7 linked regions of the Homo sapiens genome follow. The protein of the gene in region 5 interacts with the protein of the main gene of each other region in a biochemical or structural test. Each region holds a gene or a part of one and is shown on either strand. Other genes may lie near its edges. The genes, in order: DDR1, ERBB4, PRKCD, INPP5D, SHC1, ERBB3 and TEK.

Region 1 (3,069 bases), on a different chromosome or scaffold from region 5:
GCCCCTGCGCAGCCTGCCCGTCCCCAGGGGCCCCCTCGGCTGCCTTGTCCTCCAGCTGGTGGGCACTGAGGAACTGGTTGAGGTCGCCGTTCTCCATGTAGTCAGTAATCATGCAGAGGGGGTCGTCCTGCACACACACGCCCAGCAGCCGAATGATGTTTGGGTCCTTGAGCCTCGACATGATCTTCACCTCTTTCAGGAAATCATTCCTGGAGAACAAGGAGAAGCTGAAGAGGAATGCCGAGTGGGCGGCCTGCACCTTCCCCCGCGCCCCCACCCCCCTGCCCCACCTCAGGCAGACCAGGCGTCCCCACCCCCAGCGTACATGTAAATCCCCTCCCAGAGATGCCACCCCTCTGTTGGGCTCTGCCATTGTTCTCTCTAGATGGCTCCCCACTCTTCACGGCCTCCCCTCCCTTCTTCCAGATGCCATCCCTGGTCCTCACCTGGCATTCTTGGTGGCATCTGGCCGTAAGATCTTGACAGCTACCAGCAAAGGGTGTCCCTTACGCACATTAAGGGGGAAATCAAGACTAACCAGATCTTGAGGGCTGTCGACCTCACACAGGTGCACCTGGAGAAAGAAGTTCGTTTGCTAGGCGGTCACAGGGTCAAACGGATTAACACGGTTACAAATGACTAAGGTTCCTGGCTAGGGGGATGCGCAGGCATGGCATCAGAGCACACAATAGGGCCAGACACTGGGTAGGCACCCTCCTTACCTCCCCAAACTGGCCCTCGCCAAGCTTCTCCTTGAAGCGGAGTCGAGATCGAGGGAAATCCACTCTGGGGGGCCCATCCCCGACTGCCCCTGGGGGCAGTGCAGGCACAGCATAGGTGTTGCCCCCGGTGACGCCCTGCAGGGTAACAATGTCAGCCTCGGCATAATGGGGGACGCTGTTCTGGGGAGGTGGGGGCAGAAGCGGGGCGCCTGGCTTCTCAGGCTCCATATAGTCCCCACTGTAGGCTGCAGGGGTGAGGGGAAAGAAGACAGGACGAGGCATCAGGAACAGCCCAAGAGCTATAGTTCCCCACACCTCAGCCTCCCGGAGGGCCCTGTGTCTCCCGGTTGAGTGAGAGACTGGGTCTATGCTGTATCTTCCCAGTATTCCATGCGCCAACCTCAAACCAGGAAGACACTGGCATGGGACGAGAGTTAGCTATTCCAGAGCTTTTCAAGGCAATGAATATGGTTGAGCAAAACTGTCATAAAGTCTTACTCTTTTAGGGCCTCCCTAGGGTCTCTCAAGAGACTGTGAGATAAATCTTGGCTGGAAGAAGAATTCCTCCCCAGGAATTCTCCCGCCTCAGGATGGTCCCAGCATCCAGGCACCCTCCACCTTCCAAACCCTTGTCCCGTTCACCACAGCTCCCTCCCCTTCACTTAGCTGCTCTCCCGTGGCTTTCAGCCTGGCTCCCCCTGGGGCCAAGCCCTCCCAACCCTTTCAACCCAACACACCAAGCTCAACAACAAGCAGAGACAGAGGCACACAGAGAGGAGGGAGGGTAACAGCTGCTCACAGCCCCAACACAAGTTGTCTACAGACAGGAGAGGAAGCAGAGCTGTCCCCTCTTAGCCCTGGGGAAGGGGCCACAATGAGAAGGCAACACTGAGGAGAAGAGGGGCAGATGGAAAGGGTTGGGGCATGAGCCTTCACCTCTGGGACTGCAGAGAGAGGACACATGTGAGGGAAAGGGCAAGCGCCCGGGGTGAGAGCCCTCCTCCTCGCAGCTCTAGAGAGAGTGGAGAATAAAGGAGGAGTTACTATAGTCTGGGGCCACCACAGCAACCTCCTGTCTAGCTCTGGAGAGCTGAAGAGATGGCGTGGAAGAGGAGGAGGGAGAAGAGCTGGGGACCAGTAAGCTTTCTACTCCTCAGCTCAAGGGGGGGACCTTAAAAAAGAGCAAGCAGCAGCAGAGATGAGCTAAGGGCACAAGAGCTTCCTCCTTGGGAGCTCAGGAGAGCAGAATAGGCCACAGTGGGGAGAGGAGGAAGTGCAAGGTGTGAGGGCTTTTCCCTGCCCCAGTAGAGGTATGGGGAGCCTGGCGGAGCCCAGGGGCAGAGGGGCTTACCCTGGGTGTTGGTGGGTTTGGCCCAGGCGGGTGTGGGGGGGCCCGGGCCTCGAGGGGGACGGGCGTAAGTGGCCAGAAGGAGGCGGTAGGCTGGATTGGAGAGCAGCAACGCTGTCGGGAGAAGGAGGAGGGGAAACACGGGGAAGGGATGAGACTCAAGGCTAGACAGACAGGGAGACCTTGAATAGGGCAAGACCAGGGCTGATGGGATGATTGCATTAAGAGACAGACAGGATAAAACAAGGATCTGCAGAGTGACGGACGGCTGGCTGGATAATGAATGCATGGACAGATGGGACGTATGAATAGATGGATGGATGGTAAACAGATGTTTTGTTGGATGGATGGATAACAGATGGAAAGATGGATGTGTGAATATAGATGGATAGATGGATGATGGATATGGGTGGGTGGATGGATGGATGAATAGATTTATGAATATAGATAGAAAGACAGATGATGGAAGATTGATGGATGGATGCAAGGATGTATGACTATGGATGGAAGGATGGGTGATGGAGGATAGATGAAGGAACAAACATGGTGAGTCTAATACAAAGCAAAGGGGCCAGGGAGACACAATGAGAGGGTACAACAAAGATAGAGAGATGTCTGTGGGACACAGACAAGATAGCACCACGGGGGACTATGGGTAATACATGGGGAACTCTTGAGAGAGACTACATGGTAGGGACAAAGAGTGATATAGACAGTAACCAGGGGCACAGAAAGAAGAAAACAAGTGGAAACTGGGGAAGACAGGAAAAAAAGAGAATGGGAAAGGGATACAATAAGAAAACAGCAGAGAGGACAGAGGTGCGACTGGAACAAGGCAGGTCTTACCAGAGCCATTGGGGACACAGGGAGCGGAGTGGGGCGGATTCCCACGAGGCCGGGGCTCCTGGTACGGGGGTGGCTCTCTAGGACCTGGGCGGTTGTTGATGAGGATAGTGTCCCCAGGGACAGAGAGGTGAACCGTCAGCTCCTCTTCCAACA
Region 2 (3,500 bases), on a different chromosome or scaffold from region 5:
GTGAAAGGAAAGTGAGGGAATGTCAACGGCAGGGGCCTCAAAGCTGCCTCCTCCCTGCAGCTTAACTACACAGCTCTCTTTTTATTTTACCCTTTCAGCTGTTTTAGAAACTAGGGCTATGCCTATGACTTCACTTGGAACAACAACAACAAAAAAGAGGTCCACTTACAAAAATAATTAAAAACCAATAAACTTTTTTTCTAAAAAGTCTAAACTTTCCATTTCTAATTAATTGAATTATTAAAAACATTCAAGATGTTAATAGCTTAGGCATGACTTTTAGCTACACTAATAAAGGTAAGGCGATTGAGACAGAAGCAAGTAGTCTAATCCCAGATCACATAACAAATGATTGTATGACCAGAATCCAAACCTCCTAACTTTTAGTGCTTTATTCGCTAGCATCACACAATAGCAAGGCTGTTGCTGTACTACCCACAGCTAAGGCATGCACTATTCCTATTAAAGTCTATGTGGCTGCTGCCCCCTGGAGTTGTGCAAAGTGACAGGCCTGCAGAACAATTCAAAATGGAAATAACTCTAAAACAATTATTACATGCTACATAGCCTCTTTAGAATTAGTTAACAAAACATCCACATATTTCAACTCCATATTGTAAAAGGGACAGCTTTCCTCTCTTGAAAAGTTTGTATAAATATAAAGCACTAGTTTAAGTATCAAGTGTGAAAACAAGGAAGTGGCCTTAAATCTTGATTACAGAATTGGAAAATACGGCAATTTATTTAATAAATATTTCAGAATAACCAACAACTCAGAAAAAATAAAAGAGACCATAGAACAATTCTGAAAATAATATTTTGGGGAAATTGCCCTCAAATACAAATGCCTTTGAGTTAATAAGCTCTTTATTTCATTAGACAGGTACTCTTTTGATAGAGACAGTTTGCTAGAAAGTTTACATTATGTTTCTTAATATAGGTATACATGTTTTAGATTACATGTGCAATTTAGATTACATCTATAAAAACAATTTAGTGGAATGTATCTCAATATCAAAGACTTTAAAGTTATTTTCATAAAACTGTACAGTGCAGAAATAGTGCATTATATGCATTTCTCTCCCAGGCAGAGAAGCCAAGTCACAAAGAGATGCAGTGAGTTGCTGAAGGTATTAAGAAACTCGAGAACTGTCTCTGCAAGGTAGAAATCCTGATTTAAACAATGTGACTACGTCCCATGTCCCATTTAACCACAAAATAGGCAATTAAAGTCTCCCTCAAATTATGTTGAAGACATACAGTTTCAGGAAACATTGACCTACAATTTTTTCATAAAAAGGGGTTATTTTTCATTATAAACTGAAAACTCCAGTCAATAGCTGTATTAGAAATCATAAAAAGTAAGGTTTTAACTCTGACTGCCAATATTTATAATACTTCAGAAAATGAGTATTAGATAAAACATGTAATTTGGTTCCATATGGTGAAATGTAACATAATAGAGCATCTCTAAAATGATATAACCTGGAGAAAAGTTGTTAATATGATTAAATTCTACCCTGCACAGGATACTCAGTAGATCACTGTAAAAGATAACAGTGGAATATGCTTGGTGATTAATTTCTGTAGAACAGATGTAGGCTTGAACCTCTAAAAACTAATTTCAGTACAAATATTAGCATCTCAACAAAGCAGTATCTCTCAAAACTGGTAAAATTAAACAGAGCAAGTACCAACAAGTTTGTAGGTATCAGAAAATCCGTTTTGATCATTTATTTCATTTATGTTTTAGGCACTTACAAACTATACATGGATATCCAACAGTAGCAGAACACTATAATATAAAGCCAAAACTTATGGCTATTTTTAAGAACATGTTAACTTTTCCTAATAACCAGCTTGATATAACACAAAAATAATACCGCTTTAAAGCATTGCAATGTTTAAGCCATCCTAATTCAATTTATTGTCTAAAATATGCACTGTGCATAGCCATTAATCTCAAGGTGGCTCTAATCAAGCTTCCAAGAGTACTTAGAAAGAGCACAATTCATTGCCTCACTAGCATTTTTTAAATAGCAGTGGTCCACCTTCCTTCCTTGGTCAAGAGGGGAAAAGAAAGAAAGAAAAAGGGTAAGAGGGACTTCTCTGTGGAAAGGTTTGGCCTTGGAGTCAAGGCTTTTAAGATGTGCCAGTGATCTTGGATCGATGCCTTTTTATTTTCTTTCAGGAATAAATCTGAGCAATGGAATGGCTTGTGATTGTCTGGCCAACCAGCCATATCAGATTTATCAGAAAGAATGAAAACTGGCTCAGAGGACTCCTGCAGTGGCTGAGTGGCAGGTTACTGGGAAAGACACAAACAAAAACAATATACTTAGTGGCGGAAGGGAAAATATATATTAACACATGTAAACTCAATAAATACTAAGATGTAAAGAGAGAATCTATAGTAACAGAAAGGGTGAATGCATAAGACAGATGATAAATAGTACTTCTATTTAAAAACCAAAGGGATGAAAGCTCATGAATACTACATATTTGAATCCACTTTGAGGAGGAAATACGATTTTCCATCAAATAAATGCAAACTCTAAAAATCAGCCAATGCAAACTTACTGTGTTCAGGTTAGAATAAAAAATGCATAAATCTTCCACAAAGTTCATGCTCTGATAAATATTCTAATGTAATTTCTTAATTAAGACACATTTCCAGTGACTAAATGAAAATATATATATAAAGCAGTAAGTGCCTTGATTTTCAACAAAATTTCACTTTCTATGCATACATGATTAAAATAAATAAAAGCAGTTGAGTTTAAGAGCAAAAAAAAGGAATACTGATATAACTGGAGTCATTTCATCACAACAGAACAGTTATAGTATTTCCAAGCGATTTGCAGTTATACTAACAGATATTTATTTAGACATATTGTGAAGAAAAAAATAACACCTTCTTCTAAAAAGCCCCCTTTTATATATATATATATGAGAATTTCAAATTAAAAAGAAAACATTGTACCGATAGATGTGCTTACAGTAAACACTTGTAAGAAAGAGAATTGATGCTTTCTTGAAAATATATTTAACACCTTTTTCACCACTTAACTTTTATTAACATTTTTCTTCTCAAATGAAAAATAACCCCATGATTTTGGAGATATAATGATGTATCTTAAATATGTACGAAAGCTATATGTACTTTTATAGAATGAAAAGCAAGACTGAGTTACCTGCAAAAAAGAAATGGGAACTGAACTTGTTCATCGTTTATCTACTAAGGTATATAAGAGTACCACCTCAATGCTACTATACATTTTCTTCAATACCAAGGCAATATTGATAATTTTCCATTATACAAGGAAGACGAATTTTAGAACCATTCCTTTGGTTAGCAAAGGCTTTATAATTGCCATATAAAGGGACTTTGGCTATATCTAGATATATCTAAATAAAATGCATAATTGAAAATGAGACAAAGTCCTTTAGAATTTCTAAAAAACATCCTCTCTAATGCTGAATTTTTTTCCAAGCAAAAG
Region 3 (3,500 bases), on a different chromosome or scaffold from region 5:
CCTGTCCTTAGGGACCTCAAACTGGACAATGTGCTGCTGGACCGGGATGGCCACATCAAGATTGCCGACTTTGGGATGTGCAAAGAGAACATATTCGGGGAGAGCCGGGCCAGCACCTTCTGCGGCACCCCTGACTATATCGCCCCTGAGGTGAGCCGATACCCTTCCAGCCCCCCGCTCAGTCAGGCACCTTGCCTCCCCACGGTGGGCCAGGGAAGGATTCCCAAGGGCAGTGATGTCCAAGCCAAAGCCCATAGGCTGAGGCGGCCTGGCTAGGCTTCGTGCCCAGGGGCCCCTCTCAGCCTCAGCACCTCAGCTCCTGCTGACCTGCTGCTCTCCCCACCGCCAGATCCTACAGGGCCTGAAGTACACATTCTCTGTGGACTGGTGGTCTTTCGGGGTCCTTCTGTACGAGATGCTCATTGGCCAGTCCCCCTTCCATGGTGATGATGAGGATGAACTCTTCGAGTCCATCCGTGTGGACACGCCACATTATCCCCGCTGGATCACCAAGGAGTCCAAGGACATCCTGGAGAAGGTGGAGGCCCTGGGCTGGGCTGGGCTGGTCTGGGCTGGGCTGGGGCAGGGGCTGGCAGACACTGGGCTTTGGGTGAGGAGCTTCCTGTCTCTGGAATGGCAGCCTCAGTGGTGCTGCAGTCCTAACATACGGGGTATTGCTCTCTCACCATGTTCCCAGGAACTCCTGTCTGAGTCCTGTGCATAGAATCAGCCTGACATGGTGACTAAGGGCCCAGGGTCAGGAGACAGACCCGAGGCCAAATGCTGGCTCTGCCTGGGACTAGCTGGTCACTTAACCTCTCAGAGTTTGTCTCCTTATCTGTAAAATGGGGCTATGAGCAGACTTGACTCACAGAGTTGTTGGGAAGAAAATAGAAACATATGATGCTCAGCTGTGGGCCAGGCAGATAGTAAATAATAAAAAGTTCCACCAGCAGAGTCGCAGATGTCCAGCCCAGAGCCTGTCATCTCCGGGGGAGCTGGGAGCACTGCAGGCCAGAGTGGCCTCCCTCAGCCCCACCGTTCCCCAGGCTGACTGGGGCTGGGGCAAGCCTGGCTTTGCATCCCTGGGCCTGCTGGGGATTTGCTGAAGCTCCAATTTCCCATGGCCCTTGGGTGCTAACCAGGGTCCCTGCTGGGTTGCAGCTCTTTGAAAGGGAACCAACCAAGAGGCTGGGAGTGACCGGAAACATCAAAATCCACCCCTTCTTCAAGACCATAAACTGGACTCTGCTGGAAAAGCGGAGGTTGGAGCCACCTTTCAGGCCCAAAGTGGTATGTGATCCTGCCCTGTGCTGCCTTCAGGCTGAGCTACTCCTCTCCTGCCCTCCCTCTCTCCTGCATCATTCACACGCTTTCCACCTCTCCCTTCTTCCAGCAATCTCCATAGCATGTTCAGTCACAGCCGCTGCCCTTGTATTCTCATCCTCTCCCTCCTGACTCAGTCATTCAGCACACACTGGGGACTGTGGATCCCACTGTATGCAGAGGACCCTGTTTTGGGAAATAGAGTTAAGACCTCACTTTATCGCTCCATTCAATCCATTTTCCAATACATATGGGGAATCCTGAGTCCCTGTTGAATGCAGAGCACAGTGCTGGGCTGCACAGCAAAGTGGGAGATGCAGTCCCAGAACCGGAGGAGCTCTCAGCTAGTTGGAGAGATAAGAAACTTGCACACCTATGACAATTTGTGATACGAGATGACAGTATAAGAGATGCCCCAGGACACATGATCCGTTGCTATTGAGTGGGTCTGTCAGCAGGAACCCAGGTGGCAGAGAAGAGGGTGGGTCTGAGAGGCCCCGTTGGAAGAAGTGAGACAAGGGACAGCTGGGAGGCATTCCAGGTGGAAGAGGGGCTGGTTCACTCACAGGCCCAGAATCTACAGGGCTACCAAGGAACCAGCCTGAGAGCAGAGGCAGGTGGGGCCACTAAGAAATTTGGGGCTGTGTGGCCCCTCTGTGACCACAGTTCTTCCTTCCCACTCCCCTTCTGTCCTTTGATTCCCCTCCTCCACCAGGGCACACAGTTCCCACTGGGCAGCCTGTGTAATGCGCCCCACATTTGTGCTTTGAGGCTACAGAGCACTTCCCCTACACCAGGGACCTCAAACTCAGACGTGTCCTGGCTGAGCATGTAACTGACAGGCTAGGCCAGCTGCAAGAAAATCACACAGCCTGCTTTCAGTCTCACTTTTGATAGATTTCCTTCTCCGCACTAAGAAACACAAAGCAGGTGTGATGTACCCCTTGTCAGTGGGGCAGGGGCTGTCCAGGGGGCTCTTAGCACCAAGAGTGGGCAGGAAGTGGGCCCAGGGCTGCTTTAATCTGCCAGTTTTCAAAAGAAGCTGGAAATCTGGATTTTTAGGTTGCATTGCTCAATTTTAAAATATAAGTTCAGGCCGGGCACAGTGGCCCACACCAGCACTTTGGGAGGCTGAGGCAGGCAGATCACCTGAGGTCAGGAGTTCGAGACCAGCCTGGCCAACATGGTGAAACCCCGTCTCTACTACAAAAAATACAAAAAAAATTAGCCGGGTACGGTGGTGCACACCTGTAATCCCAGCTACTCAGGAGGCTGAGGCAGGAGAATCGCTTGAACCCAGGAGGTGGAGGTTGCAGTGAGCCGAGATCGTGCCACTGCACTCCAGCCTGGGCAAGAGAGTGAGACTCCATCTCTAAATGAATAAATAAATAAAAATAAATAAATAAAATATAGGTTCAAATTCCATTAAAACCCAGTACAAGCCGAAATGATTGTACTTGCCAGTTCAGTTTGGCTGAAGGGCCACCAGCTTGCGGTCTTTCTATATTACCATCCCATCATATCCTCAGGAGCAGAGAATCAGCAAATTTCTCCTGTAAACAGCCTGATAGTATATATTTTAGGCTTTTCAGGCTTGATGGTCTCAAAGCAGGCATAGACAGTATGTCAACAAATGGGCATGGTTGTGTATTACAAAAGCTTTATTTATGGAAAGTGAAATTTGAATTTCACCTAATTTTCATGTCATGAAATATTTTTCTTTTGATTTTTTTTCCAACCATTTAAAAATGTGAAAGCCATTCTTAGCTTGTGGTCCCCACAAAAACAGGTGGTAAGTGAGCCTCCCTGGGCTGTGATTCGGTGGTCTCTGAGCAAGAGGCTACCACCTCTCCTAACCCAGGCCCAGAGCTCCCTGGTCACTTTCCTCATCCTCTTGGGGAAATGGCAGCCTCCTTCCCATGGGGCTCCTTTCAGGCTGCTAGGGGAGGCTCTGTCTTCTGTTCTGGGTGAGGACAGCTCTGGCCTGGCCCAGCCCTGCAGGGACTCCAGCCTGGGGTGTCTGGAGGGCCATTCCCTAGGTCCTGTTCGCTCACCCCTGCCCTCTGCTTGTAGAAGTCACCCAGAGACTACAGTAACTTTGACCAGGAGTTCCTGAACGAGAAGGCGCGCCTCTCCTACAGCGACAAGAACCTCATCGACTCCATGGACCAGTC
Region 4 (2,531 bases), on a different chromosome or scaffold from region 5:
GTTCAAGACCAGCCTAACCAATATGGTGAAACCCTGTCTCTATTAAAAATACAAAAATTAGCTGGGCATTGTGGTGTGCACCTGTAATCCCAACTACTCGGGAGGCTGAGACAGGAGAATTGCTTGAACCCAGGAGGCGGAGGTTGCAGTGAACCGAGATCGCAACACTGCACTCCAGCCTGGGCGACAGAGTGAGACTCCATCTCAAAAAAGAGAACAGTCAGGCTATGTTGGATTTGAATCCCAGCCCTCCCACCTCCTGGCTCTGTGCCTTGAGCCTCAGTTTACCCATCTGTAAAAAGGGGCTGTTAATAGTACCTACCTCATAGACTTAGAAGGAGAATTGCATTGTAGGCTATTATGTATTATTACCATGTATTATCATCTATATAGAAATTATATATTTATATTTATGTATTTACATTGATATCCATTACATATCATTTCATATATATATACTATACATATTACATATGTGTATATATTTTATATATATATATGGTACGTACCTGGGTGTGGTGCCATGCACCTGTAGTCCCAGCTACTGGGGAGGCTGAGGCATGAGGCTAGCTGGAACCCAAGAATTCAAGGCTGCAGTGAGCTATGATTGCACCACTGCACTCCAGACTAGGCAACAGAGTAAGACCCCATTTCTAAAAAACAATTTTTTTAAATAAGCAGGTAAAGTACTTAGAGCAGTGAGTGCTGGCTCTTCTCAGCTACACGTTAAAGGAAGCCTGGCCTAGCCCACAGCATGCAGGGACCTGGGCCACTTAGTTCAACATGGCCTGGTGAGAATGAGCCCTGACAGCCCTTCTGTTCTTGTCCCACAGTGAAGCCCTCAGTGAGCTGCCACTGAGTCGGGAGCCCAGAGGAACGGCGTGAAGCCACTGGACCCTCTCCCGGGACCTCCTGCTGGCTCCTCCTGCCCAGCTTCCTATGCAAGGCTTTGTGTTTTCAGGAAAGGGCCTAGCTTCTGTGTGGCCCACAGAGTTCACTGCCTGTGAGACTTAGCACCAAGTGCTGAGGCTGGAAGAAAAACGCACACCAGACGGGCAACAAACAGTCTGGGTCCCCAGCTCGCTCTTGGTACTTGGGACCCCAGTGCCTCGTTGAGGGCGCCATTCTGAAGAAAGGAACTGCAGCGCCGATTTGAGGGTGGAGATATAGATAATAATAATATTAATAATAATAATGGCCACATGGATCGAACACTCATGATGTGCCAAGTGCTGTGCTAAGTGCTTTACGAACATTCGTCATATCAGGATGACCTCGAGAGCTGAGGCTCTAGCCACCTAAAACCACGTGCCCAAACCCACCAGTTTAAAACGGTGTGTGTTCGGAGGGGTGAAAGCATTAAGAAGCCCAGTGCCCTCCTGGAGTGAGACAAGGGCTCGGCCTTAAGGAGCTGAAGAGTCTGGGTAGCTTGTTTAGGGTACAAGAAGCCTGTTCTGTCCAGCTTCAGTGACACAAGCTGCTTTAGCTAAAGTCCCGCGGGTTCCGGCATGGCTAGGCTGAGAGCAGGGATCTACCTGGCTTCTCAGTTCTTTGGTTGGAAGGAGCAGGAAATCAGCTCCTATTCTCCAGTGGAGAGATCTGGCCTCAGCTTGGGCTAGAGATGCCAAGGCCTGTGCCAGGTTCCCTGTGCCCTCCTCGAGGTGGGCAGCCATCACCAGCCACAGTTAAGCCAAGCCCCCCAACATGTATTCCATCGTGCTGGTAGAAGAGTCTTTGCTGTTGCTCCCGAAAGCCGTGCTCTCCAGCCTGGCTGCCAGGGAGGGTGGGCCTCTTGGTTCCAGGCTCTTGAAATAGTGCAGCCTTTTCTTCCTATCTCTGTGGCTTTCAGCTCTGCTTCCTTGGTTATTAGGAGAATAGATGGGTGATGTCTTTCCTTATGTTGCTTTTTCAACATAGCAGAATTAATGTAGGGAGCTAAATCCAGTGGTGTGTGTGAATGCAGAAGGGAATGCACCCCACATTCCCATGATGGAAGTCTGCGTAACCAATAAATTGTGCCTTTCTCACTCAGCTGTGTGTGTGGCGTTTTTCCTGACATTCGGAGCCATAGATATCCTTCTAGATGGCAGGGCCTGCACAGGGCACAACTGAGGCAGTTAAGGGTTCATGGTGGTGATGGATGGTGTTGCCCTGACCAGATGGGACACCATAGAGCCAGTTTGAAGCTGGTCCTGGACTAGGAACAGGAGTAAACCGCACCCCTTCCTTCCTTCCACCCACACATCTTCCTGGCACTCCAAGCACCCTGCGGCCACCCAGAGGCCACGAGCATCCCCTCCAAACCTGCTGTCCTGCAGCCCACAAGTTCCTCCCAGCTTTTATAAGTTTTCACCACTTAAGCTGCAGTGACAAAAAAAACACGTCAACACTCCCCAGGTCATGGGTTCCCAGGTCAGGGAGTAGACCCCCGCCCAGAGGCACAGTGCGGGCCACTTCCACGGCGCCTCTGCCCCACCTTGGGCTGCCTGGCCTCTGCTTCTGCTCACAGACACCAGGCCTGGGCTCCAGGC
Region 5 (2,975 bases):
GAAAGTTTTGAAGAACAGTGAGGCAGTGCAGATAAGAGAAAGCACAGTGGTCTGAGTCCTGAGTCTGGGGAGCTGGAGAAGCCCTTGGATCTTCTTACAAAAGGAAACTTGCAGTGTCTAGCCTCTAACCATCTGACATTGGGCATCACAACCTCTTCAGGGTGGTTTCCTTATTTGTCAAAAGAGGGGCACAGATGAGATGACTGCCTTCTAGCTCTGATAAGCTTAAGGCTTGGGGATTTGAGGACGGGCCAGGACTGTATTTGTTTTGTTTTGTTTTTTCAGACAGAGTCTCACTCTGTCACCCAGGCTGGAGTGCAGTGGTGTGATCTCAGCTCATTGCAACCTCTGCATCCCAGATTCAAGCAATTCTCCTGCCTCAGCCTCCTGAGTAGCTGGGACTACAGGTGCCTGCCACCACACCCGGCTAATTTTTGTATTTTTAGTAGAGACAGGGTTTCACCATATTGGTCAGGCTGGTCTCGAACTCCTGACCTCAGGTGATTCACCTGCCTCAGCCTCCCAAAGCGCTGGGATTACAGGTGTGAGCCACCACGCCTGGCCCTGTGCCAGGACTATAAAGAACATAGTTCAGGCTAAGGGATGAGCCTCTGGAGGAAGATGCCAGACACTTTAAAGAGCAAGAGAGGCCCATAGACAGCTGCCCAGCGGGAATGTCTACAAAGCAATGAGGGAAGGAAGAGGGATACACTGTAGGGTACTGTACCTTCCTTTTTGCCACCCCTCACCCACACCTCTGCCACACTCACCACACCCTCAGGGTCCACCAGTAGCAAATGCTTAGGCTGCCCACTCTGCAAGCCAGTGAGCACATACTGGCCAGGTGTGGTCGTGCTCTCCCGTACCAGGAAGTCCCCATTGAGCTGCAGCAGTGCCTCAGCCTCCCGCCGGCTCAGCTTCCCATGGAACCAGGGCTCCCCTCGGAGCTGCTCAGCCATGGACACCGACTGGGGAGGTGGAGGCACGCGAAGAGCATCTTCGAAGGGCTCTGGAAGTATAGAGGGAGGGTGAGGGGAAGTAGCAGGCACAACACACACCCAAGACCCAGACTTCAGGGAAGGGAAGTCAGGAAGGAAAGAGCAGATAGGCAGGAGAAGGGCCAGAACCAAGTAGAAAGGTGGGGATGCAGAGAGGAGAGAGACGAGCACTCACTCATGTCAAACAGGTCCCGGGGTGCACTGCCATTGATAGCAGGATTGGGGGGCCCAGCACCACCCACTGCTTGCCGGGCCTTGTCTAGGTTCTGGACGTTGACATAGGAGGGATCATCAAAAAGCTCTCTGCCTGCTGAGGAAAGGGAGGCTCTACAGTGATCCCAGCCCTGCCTCCAACACTCCCCAGCTCTGCCTATCTCGGCTCCCTTCATACCTGGACAGGGTGGTGGAGGTGGCATCTGTTTGCGGACTTCTGGATCTCCCCCAACAGGCTGTCCTACAGGCTGCAGGGATAAAAATAAGGTGAGACCAGAAGCCCTAACCAACCACTCCCACCCTAGCCCCAGCCCGCCTCCATCCAAGCAACTTACCAATGTAGCTCCCAAGTGGCTGGGGGTCTGGGCATTGGGTGCAGTGGGTCGAGCAGCCCCTGGAGCGGCTCCTTCCCGAAGCCTCATGTCTACCACCCCCCCCAAGGGGGGTTCCTTCCCCGGGAAGTCATTATAGTACTGATGGTCAGGTGGCTCTTCCTCCTCCTCATCCCATGCTGAGCCATCAAAGCCAGCCATCCTGAGGGACAGGACAGTGAAGCTGTGGCTGTAAATGTGTGGTGGGCAGGAGGAGGGAAGGACAGAATAGAACAGCAGCCATCTATTGGGTATTTACTATGGATTAAGCCTGAGGCTGAGTGTTTTATATACATAATCATTTCATTCTCCTGGCAACCCCGTAAGGTAGGTATTGTTTCCTTCCCCACTTTTACAGATGAGGAAAATGAGGGTCAGAGGTGAAAAGATCTGCCCAAGGTCTCACAACTAAAAGGCGGCCGAGCTCAGATTTAAATTCAGGTTTGACTTTAAAGCTCATCCCCTTGGCCAGGTGCAATGGCTCACGCCTATAATCCCAACACTTTCAGAGGCCAAGGAGGGAGGGTTGTTTGAGCCTAGGAGTTCAAGACCAGCCAGGACAACATAGCGAGACCTTATCTCTACCAGAATAAAAATACTACTACTCAGCCAGGTGTGGTGGCATGCACCTGTAGCCCCAGCTACTCAGGAGGCTAAGGTGGGAGGATCACTCAAGCCCAGGATATGGAGGCTACAGTGAGCTGTGATTGTACCACTGAACTCCAGCCTGGGCTACAGAGCAAGACTGTCTCAAATAAGTAATGCTCTTGCTCTTGATCTCTGTGCTATCTCCCAACAAGGAAGGGAAGCACCATGTAGGGGGGTGGGGGGCCGGGGGAGGCACTCCAGCTCCAGAATATTTTAACCTCTCCTAAATATTCAATCCCTACTGGCTCCACTGCTTATCCCTCAAGGCCTGAGGTGGGAAAGGTTGTAATCTCAGGGAAAAGAGATATCCTCCCAAACCCAAATTCTTGATGGCTTCTAGAGGCAGGAAAACACATAATGCCAAGCAGAGAAATGAGCAAGAAAGAGGGATGGGAGTAGAAAATCCCACCTAGCCAGAGAGAGATGTAACTTGGAGGCCCCGGACTACAACTCCACCATGAGCAAACAAGAAAAGCTGGTCCTGCGGCAAGCAGGGCCTCAAAAGTCTTTCCTCCTGGGCCACAGGAAACAGAAGAATAGCAGGAAGTGGGAAGCAGAGGCACACAGGTTATTCCCTCCCTGAACCTCTCAACTCAAGTGTAGGAAGAGCAGCCCTCCTTTCCTAATCCTAATCCAAGAGCTGCTCCACACTCTCCCCACCTGCTCACCTGTCATGAGGGGTGACCAGTTTGGGTGGGTTCCTGAGGTATTGTTTGAAGCGCAACTCGAAGGCCTGGCCAATGGT
Region 6 (3,500 bases), on a different chromosome or scaffold from region 5:
AGCCGGGCATGATGGCACACACCTATAATTCCAGCTACTCAGGAGACTGAGGCAGGAGAATTGCTTGAACCCGGGAGGCAGAGGAGGCGGAGGTTGCAGTGAGCCAAGATTGCACCACTGCACTCTAGCCTGGGGAACAGAGTGAGACTTTGTCTTAAAAAAAAAAAAAAAGTATATGGGGAATTTTATACCATTCTTGCAACTTTAGTGTAGATCTAAAATTATGTCAAAATAAAAAATTAAAGGAAAAAAAAAAACAGGTGGTCATAGTGGGTTTTTTTTACACACACACACACATTTTAAATGCTGTCCTATAGACTAGAAAGTCCCTTTGTTCTTTTTGCTCCAAGGAGCAGAATGAGTGAAAACAGCTAAAAGTCATGGGGAGACAGAATTTTCTTTTCTTTTCTTTTTTTTTTTTGAGAAAGAGTCTCGCTCTGTCGCCAGGCTGGAGTGCGGTGGTGTAATCTCGGTTCACTGCAATTTCCGCCTCCTGGGTTCAAGTGATTCTCGTGCCTCAGCCTCCTGAGTAGCTGGGATTACAGGCATGTGCACCACCACACCCAGCTAATTTTTGTGTTTTTAGTAGAGATGGCATTTCACCATGTTAGCCAGGATGGTCTCGATCTGACCTCGTAATCCGCCCACCTCGGCCTCCCAAAGTGCTGGGATTATAGGCATGAGCCACCGGGCCCAGCCTGGAGACAGATTTTTATCCAAATCTAAGGAAGAACTTTTACAAAACTTTAAGAAGGAGGTTGGGTGCTGTGATCCCTAGCACTTTGGGAGGCCAAGATGGGAGGATTGCTTGAGCACAGGAGTTCGAGATCAGCCTGGGCAACATAGCAAGACCCTGTCTCTACAAAAAAATACAAAAAAATTAGTCAAGTATGATGGTGTGTGCCTATAGTCCCAGCTACTTGGGATCACTTGAGCCCAGGAGGTCGAGGCTACAGTGAGTCGAGATCACGCCACTGCACTCCAGCCTAGGTGACAGAGCAAGACCCTATCTCAAAAAAGAAAAAAGAATAAAAAAGAAAACTTTAAGAAGGAGGATATGTTGTTCCTGTCCCTTGTTCCTTGGCAGGGCGATATTGAATTGCTCAAAGATGTTCCTGAGGGGACCGAAGGCCTGGATGGAGGATGTGTTAAGCATTCTTTCAGGTCCTTTGTAACAGGCTAGAATTTTATGACTTTGATTCCTAGTCAGCTCCACATAGGAAAGTTTTGGCCAATGAAATGAACTGTGAGGGGTGCGTGGGCTGGGGTCTAAGGAGGGAAGGCAGGATCTCTAACCCATTGAGGCCGGTGATCAGAAAGTCCAGGTTGCCCAGGATCTTGGTGCAGTTCACAAATCCATCAATGTTGCTCGAGTCCACAGTCTGGAAGCGGCTCCCAGAGCCTGTTCCCTCACAGGCTGCAAATGTAAGAGAGGTTCAGTGGGGGTGGTCTGCGCAGGCTCAGAGGAAAGGCTGTCTCTTTACAACTTCTTACCATCTCCTACCCACCTTTGGGACATAGTCCCCCACAAGGCTCACACATCTTGAGCCCATTTTTATCTACTTCCATCTTGTCAGGAGGACAGGCCCTGACACAGGATGTTTGATCCACCACAAAGTTATCTAGGGAAGAGGAGGAGGACACCATTAGAGATGAGGGAGGAACATCACCAGCTACCAATGGAACCCTTGCTCTGGGCCTAGGCTCCCTCCAGCTCTGCACTGGATTTGTCCCCATCTGCCACCCTAGATCCCTTAAGTGCTGCCCTATAGATTCAAAAGTCTCTTCACTATTTGTTGCTACAAGGAGCAGAAGTAAGGGTGATAGCTGAAGTCATGGGAGGACTGGACGTAAGGGTCACTCACTGGAGTGGTTAGATGATCATAACCATTCACCAATCTCCCTATTTATCACCAACTGGATTCTTTTTCCCTTCCACAATTTTGTCTAAAATCTTGGATCTACTATTGTTGATCATTGTTCCTTCCCCTCAGACACTTACGGGGACAGCTGGCTACACAAACTCCTCCATACTGATACTTGGTGTGGGGATTGGGTTCCAGCTGGAAAGTTAGCTTGTTGTAGACAAGAGGCTGTGGACAGCGAGGTACACAGGCTCCACTGTCATTGAAGTGCCGGCAGGCCTGGGAAAAAAGGAGGCTCATCAGATTTATGTTACGTGTGTACCCCTACCTCCTCCTCAAAGGCCACATCCCAATTTCAGAACCCAGGCAATGGAAAGGGTACATACAAAGCAGTCTGTGTCCTGAGGGCCTGAGCAGCCCCCGGCACACTCATCATGGCAGCACTGGTTGGGGTTGGGCCCAAAGCAGTGACCATTACACTGAGGAGCACAGATGGTCTTGGTCACTATGGAAGGAGAGAAAGCATGGCTGTTAGGGCTCCTAGGACTGAATTCTGAGGCCACTGCTCATGCCTCCCCCACAGTGTTGACCCAGGCTTGGGGAGGAAGGGATATGAAAGCGTATGAGTGAAGTTTTTGGAGGGAATTTCAAACCCACATGTCTGGCAGTCTTCTGATCCAGGACCCCAGCATCGCCCCTTGCAAACCTCATGACAGGGGGGACCTGGTTGGGAAGGAAGGCAACACAAGGGGCCATCAGGGCTAAGAAAGGCTTGTTTTAATCAACGGGGTATGATGTCAGTACACAGGCACCTCAATCCCGGGAAGCAAAAAGCCAGGGCTGTGTCCCTCCCTGCCCTTGGAGAGCAGGGCTGGGCTCAAGTGGACCTGTCAACAAGGGGCGCGGCCACGCCTCCACACCACCCACTGGGCAGCTGAAGGGGAGGGACTGGGGCAAATGCCAACCTTAGTCCTAGTCCCAACCCAGGAACTTAGTTCCTCCTGGGCAAACTGAATATATGCAGGAATATATGCATGTGAATGGTCAGGGGAAGGTGGGCTCCAAGGAAATGGGAGTATATTCTAGTGGAACGAGTAACAGATGTGGAGTCTAAAGATCTGGCTTCCCTGCTTAGTACTCAGGGATTTTTTTTTTTTTTTTTTGAGACAGGGTCTCACTCTGTTGCCCAGGCTAGAGTACAATGGCACAATCACAGCTCACTGCAGCTGCAGCCTCCTGGGCTCAAGCAATCCTCTGCCTCAGCCTCCTGAGTAGCCGGGATTACAGGTGCGAGCCACTACGCCTGTCTGATTTTTTTAATTTTTTGTAGATTTTTTGCTATGTTACTCAGGCTGGTCTTGGACTCCTGGGCTCAAGCGATCCTCCCACCTTGGCTTCCCAAAGTGCCAGGATTATAGGCATGAGCCACCATGCTCGGCCTGCTCCTTTTCTTGAAACACCTCCTCTGTGGTTTAGATTCCAGGAGACTGGAATGGTCTGCCCTGGTGGGCTGCTGAGTCAGGGACCTGAGGTGTTTGTTCACTGGGGAGGCGGGTTCAGATCAGGAATGTAAGGATGATGGAAAGAAGGGAGTCACTCTGGTTTGGTGGGACTGGGGAGCAATCTTGATCACGG
Region 7 (3,500 bases), on a different chromosome or scaffold from region 5:
CACTCATAGATGGGAATTGAACAGTGAGAACACATGAACACAGGAAGGGGAACATCACACTCTGGGGACTGTTGTGGGGTGGGGGGAGGGGGGAGGGATAGCATTAGGAGATATACCTAATGCTAAATGACGAGTTGATGGGTGCAGCACACCAGCATGGCACATGTATACATATGTAACTAACCTGCACATTGTGCACATGTACCCTAAAACTTACAGTATAATAATAATAATAATAATAAAAAGAATTAAAAAAAAAACAAAAAAACCTGGGCCCAGAGACACATTCACTACAAAGCTGATGAAGTTTATGTTCTAGAGACTGCTGGCATGCACCGCTTCCTGGGTCCTAGCAAAGTGTTCATAGTTTGCGTAACATTTTAATTTTTTTTAAAATACAAGGGATCTGCCCCCTGCCTGGAGTCACCTTTTACCTTAACATACACACTTCAGAGGCCAGATGGGATTTCTCCACTGCTGTGGCTCACTGCATGTTCCGGGGGGCAGACATAGCATTTAGAGGGAACTGAATGAGGTATTGCAGGTGGCTGAAGCTTACTTTTGTGTAACTCTCCTCTTTGTCCTCCTCCTCCAAGCCCCTGGAGCTATGCTGTCCAGTACAGTTAGCCACGTGTGGCTATGGAACTCTTAAAATATAGCTAGTCCAAACTGAAATTTCAAAGACTTACTATGAAAAAGGGAATGTAAAATATCTCATTAATACTTTTTTCTATTGATTACATGTTGAACTGATAATGTTTTTAACATATTGGGTTAATAGATCAAAATTATTTCACCTATTTCTCCTCACTTTTTTAATGTGGACACTAGAAAATTTTAAATTCTATATGTGGATGGCTTATATTTCTACTGAACTGCTCTGCCCTGGAGCATTGTTATCAAGTTGCTGGGACCCCATCGTAGCTACCTTTAGTGCCGGATATGGGAAAAGCTGACTTTGTGAGATAAACACTGAAAAGCCTTTGAGCTCTGGCTAATTCACAGTATTAATATACATTAGGGAGGTTCTGTCACATTTGTCTGCAGGTTCATGTTGAGCTACTATGCAACAGTAGATGTGAAATGCATACTGAAAAGTGGATGTCAGATGCACTCCACAGAGCCTGGTCAAATGGGAAAGCTTATTTTACAAAGGGCAGAGGGACTCTGAGTAGATGATGTTAGTACTACTTGCATAAGGTCCACGGCAGGTAAGATTTTAACTTCTTCAATTTTTGAGCCCCAAATCCTGTCTGGATCTGACATAAAAGCTCTGATTTTGATTTTTTTTTTTTTAAACGAGGTCTCACTCTGTTGCCCAGGCTGGAGTGTAGTGGTGCAATCATAGCTCACTGCAGCTTCAAACTCCTGGGCTCAAGGGATCCTCCTGCCTCAGCCTCCTGAATAACTGGGACAACAGGCATGTGCTACCATGCCTGGCTAAAGCTGTGATTTTATGATTCACTGAAAAAAAAAAAAAAAAAAAACCAAAAAAAAAAAACAAGTCTTCTATGGTCTTCCTACTCAAAGCATGGTCTGAAAACCAGTAACATCGGAACTACTTGGGAGCCTGTTAGAAATGCAGAACCTCGGGCCCCAGTCCATGCCTACCAAATCAGAATCCGTGCTTTAGTAAAGATCCCCAGATGATAGTTATGAGAAGTACTTTCTATGCGGTCTAGATTTTTACTGTGAAAGTATAATTAACATTGGATGTAAACATCCATGATTCAAAATCCTGTTGTCCAGTAGTGGGTAGCTAAGCAGTCCAGGTATATCCGATGTTGTGATTGACAGCAAACTGGATCTCCTTTATATACCTGCTAGAACATCCTCTGTCCAAGGGTGTGATTGGTGCATACCTTCATTGCACTGCAGACCCTTCCAGCCTGTGGCACAGGAACACCCATAGGGGTCAGGGAGACAGAACACATAAGACTTGCATCCCTCTTGTCCACTGCACCTTTCTTTACAAGTTCTGCCAAACGTGTGCAGTTCACAAGCTTTGGGAGGAAAAGAAAAGATGATTCAGAGTCAAATATGCAACCCCTTGAAATACATAATTCTTTAGATTCATTTCTCCTAGTCTAGTGAATATGGGAAACAGTCAAATCTCAGCTGTGGCATGGTAGGATGAACATACCCTTATGGCCCATTTTACTGATAATGAAACTGCCCCACAGAGCAGACATCAGGGACATCACTCACAATCATGCAGGTTTGTGCAGTGCACAAACCTAGGGGGCAGCATTCACACTGTAAACATCACGGATCTGTATATTTATTATAACTTTCCAGTGGTTGGCATTAAAGAACCTTTAGGAAAAGGCACCTTTTTCTAATTCACACACAGGTACCATCTGACCTAACAGAGGCCATTTAGCGTCCATTCCCATCTGTGTCGAGATCTAAAATTCTAGATCCAGCAACGATGGCTTTTTAAATCCACAGCTTACTTATCAAGTCTCTTTACTTACCCTTCTCACACGTCCTTCCCATAAACCCAGGAGGGCAAATGCATTCTCCAGTATCTTCATGGCAGACACCATTGTTCATACAAGCAGTACAGAGATGGTTGCATTCAGGTCCCCACTTCTGGGCTTCACATCCTTTTGTTAAGGAAAACAAGGCTGTGGTGAGTAGAGCGCATTCGCTCAACACATCTTTATTGAGCACCTACTGTGTGTCAGTCATTCAGTGGACAATGGTGAATAAAGATAAAATACAGGCTCTGCTCTCTAAAAGCTCATCATCTAATATGGGAGACAGACATGTAAACAGGAAATCGCGACAGAAACAAAGACAAGGAGTACCTAACTCTGTCTGGTGGATAGAAGAGGGCATAAAGGAAGGCTTCCCAGAGGATATGGTATGCAAGCTGAATCTGCAGGACCAACTAAGTAGCAAAGAAGATAAGGCTGGAGAGTGTCTTCCAGGCAAAGACAAGGCATGGGAAGACAGCATGGCATGTCCAGGGAGCTGCAGGTATGGTTACAGGCTGGAGCTGTGGTTTTCAAAGTGTGGTCTCTGACCAGTAGCATCCCCATCATCTGGGAATCTGTTAGAAATGCAAACCCCAGATCCCACCCAACCACGACCTACTGAATGAGAAATTCTAGAAGTGGCGTAGTAATCTGTGCACATTGGTGTCAGAAGTGTTGTGTTCAGTGAGAGCAGAGATTAGGAAAAACACTTTGGTTTTCCTATCTCAAACAACTATATATCAACATGTATAGGTATGTCTGACCTTCCTAGAAGATGTACCCCATTTACCCTCTGAGTACACCTAGTACATGGTGTTATATCAGACTCCAGAGAAACTAGCTAAATGAAATAAAGGCAAATTGCTTCCTTGACATTCAGACTCTCCTGAGTAGTGGAATAAAAGGGGATGTCACTTGCTTCTCCCAAGTCCACAGAAACTTCATGTAAAGGTAGCTGTGAGGCAAGCTACTAGAAGCTGAATATTGCAGTTTTGCTATCATCATAAATTATATTTT

The links.
Region 1: the proteins of SHC1 (region 5) and DDR1 form a complex in vitro, tested with the Homo sapiens proteins (one study listed by BioGRID).
Region 2: the proteins of SHC1 (region 5) and ERBB4 form a complex in vitro, tested with the Homo sapiens proteins (2 studies listed by BioGRID and IntAct, with this or other methods).
Region 3: the proteins of SHC1 (region 5) and PRKCD form a complex in vitro, tested with the Homo sapiens proteins (one study listed by BioGRID).
Region 4: the proteins of SHC1 (region 5) and INPP5D form a complex in vitro, tested with the Homo sapiens proteins (2 studies listed by BioGRID and IntAct, with this or other methods).
Region 6: the proteins of SHC1 (region 5) and ERBB3 form a complex in vitro, tested with the Homo sapiens proteins (2 studies listed by BioGRID and IntAct, with this or other methods).
Region 7: the proteins of SHC1 (region 5) and TEK form a complex in vitro, tested with the Homo sapiens proteins (one study listed by BioGRID).

What each region holds. Positions count from the first base shown.
Region 1 is NC_000006.12:30,894,519-30,897,587, reverse strand, and holds part of DDR1 (epithelial discoidin domain-containing receptor 1 isoform 2 precursor), read right to left. Parts: coding exon 2,917-3,069; intron 2,185-2,916; coding exon 2,074-2,184; intron 968-2,073; coding exon 723-967; intron 575-722; coding exon 447-574; intron 228-446; coding exon of another isoform or gene 210-227; coding exon 1-209. UniProt on the Homo sapiens protein: Tyrosine kinase that functions as a cell surface receptor for fibrillar collagen and regulates cell attachment to the extracellular matrix, remodeling of the extracellular matrix, cell migration, differentiation, survival and cell proliferation.
Region 2 is NC_000002.12:212,532,303-212,535,802, forward strand, and holds part of ERBB4 (receptor tyrosine-protein kinase erbB-4 isoform JM-a/CYT-1 precursor), read right to left. Parts: intron 1-3,500. UniProt on the Homo sapiens protein: Tyrosine-protein kinase that plays an essential role as cell surface receptor for neuregulins and EGF family members and regulates development of the heart, the central nervous system and the mammary gland, gene transcription, cell proliferation, differentiation, migration and apoptosis.
Region 3 is NC_000003.12:53,188,709-53,192,208, forward strand, and holds part of PRKCD (protein kinase C delta type), read left to right. Parts: intron 1-11; coding exon 12-150; intron 151-349; coding exon 350-538; intron 539-1,164; coding exon 1,165-1,293; intron 1,294-3,399; coding exon 3,400-3,500.
Region 4 is NC_000002.12:233,205,873-233,208,403, forward strand, and holds the end of INPP5D (phosphatidylinositol 3,4,5-trisphosphate 5-phosphatase 1), read left to right. Parts: intron 1-833; coding exon 834-836; coding exon of another isoform or gene 837-885; 3' UTR 886-2,031; downstream 2,032-2,531. UniProt on the Homo sapiens protein: Phosphatidylinositol (PtdIns) phosphatase that specifically hydrolyzes the 5-phosphate of phosphatidylinositol-3,4,5-trisphosphate (PtdIns(3,4,5)P3) to produce PtdIns(3,4)P2, thereby negatively regulating the PI3K (phosphoinositide 3-kinase) pathways.
Region 5 is NC_000001.11:154,964,773-154,967,747, forward strand, and holds part of SHC1 (SHC-transforming protein 1), read right to left. Parts: coding exon 2,899-2,975; intron 1,773-2,898; coding exon of another isoform or gene 1,746-1,772; coding exon 1,547-1,745; intron 1,460-1,546; coding exon 1,390-1,459; intron 1,309-1,389; coding exon 1,174-1,308; intron 1,010-1,173; coding exon 771-1,009; coding exon of another isoform or gene 597-770; exon of another isoform or gene 514-596; intron 1-513. UniProt on the Homo sapiens protein: Signaling adapter that couples activated growth factor receptors to signaling pathways. Participates in a signaling cascade initiated by activated KIT and KITLG/SCF.
Region 6 is NC_000012.12:56,086,665-56,090,164, reverse strand, and holds part of ERBB3 (receptor tyrosine-protein kinase erbB-3 isoform 1 precursor), read right to left. Parts: intron 2,589-3,500; coding exon 2,523-2,588; intron 2,371-2,522; coding exon 2,252-2,370; intron 2,145-2,251; coding exon 2,003-2,144; intron 1,623-2,002; coding exon 1,509-1,622; intron 1,418-1,508; coding exon 1,297-1,417; intron 1-1,296. UniProt on the Homo sapiens protein: Tyrosine-protein kinase that plays an essential role as cell surface receptor for neuregulins.
Region 7 is NC_000009.12:27,171,725-27,175,224, reverse strand, and holds part of TEK (angiopoietin-1 receptor isoform 1 precursor), read right to left. Parts: intron 2,610-3,500; coding exon 2,478-2,609; intron 2,004-2,477; coding exon 1,863-2,003; intron 1-1,862. UniProt on the Homo sapiens protein: Tyrosine-protein kinase that acts as a cell-surface receptor for ANGPT1, ANGPT2 and ANGPT4 and regulates angiogenesis, endothelial cell survival, proliferation, migration, adhesion and cell spreading, reorganization of the actin cytoskeleton, but also maintenance of vascular quiescence.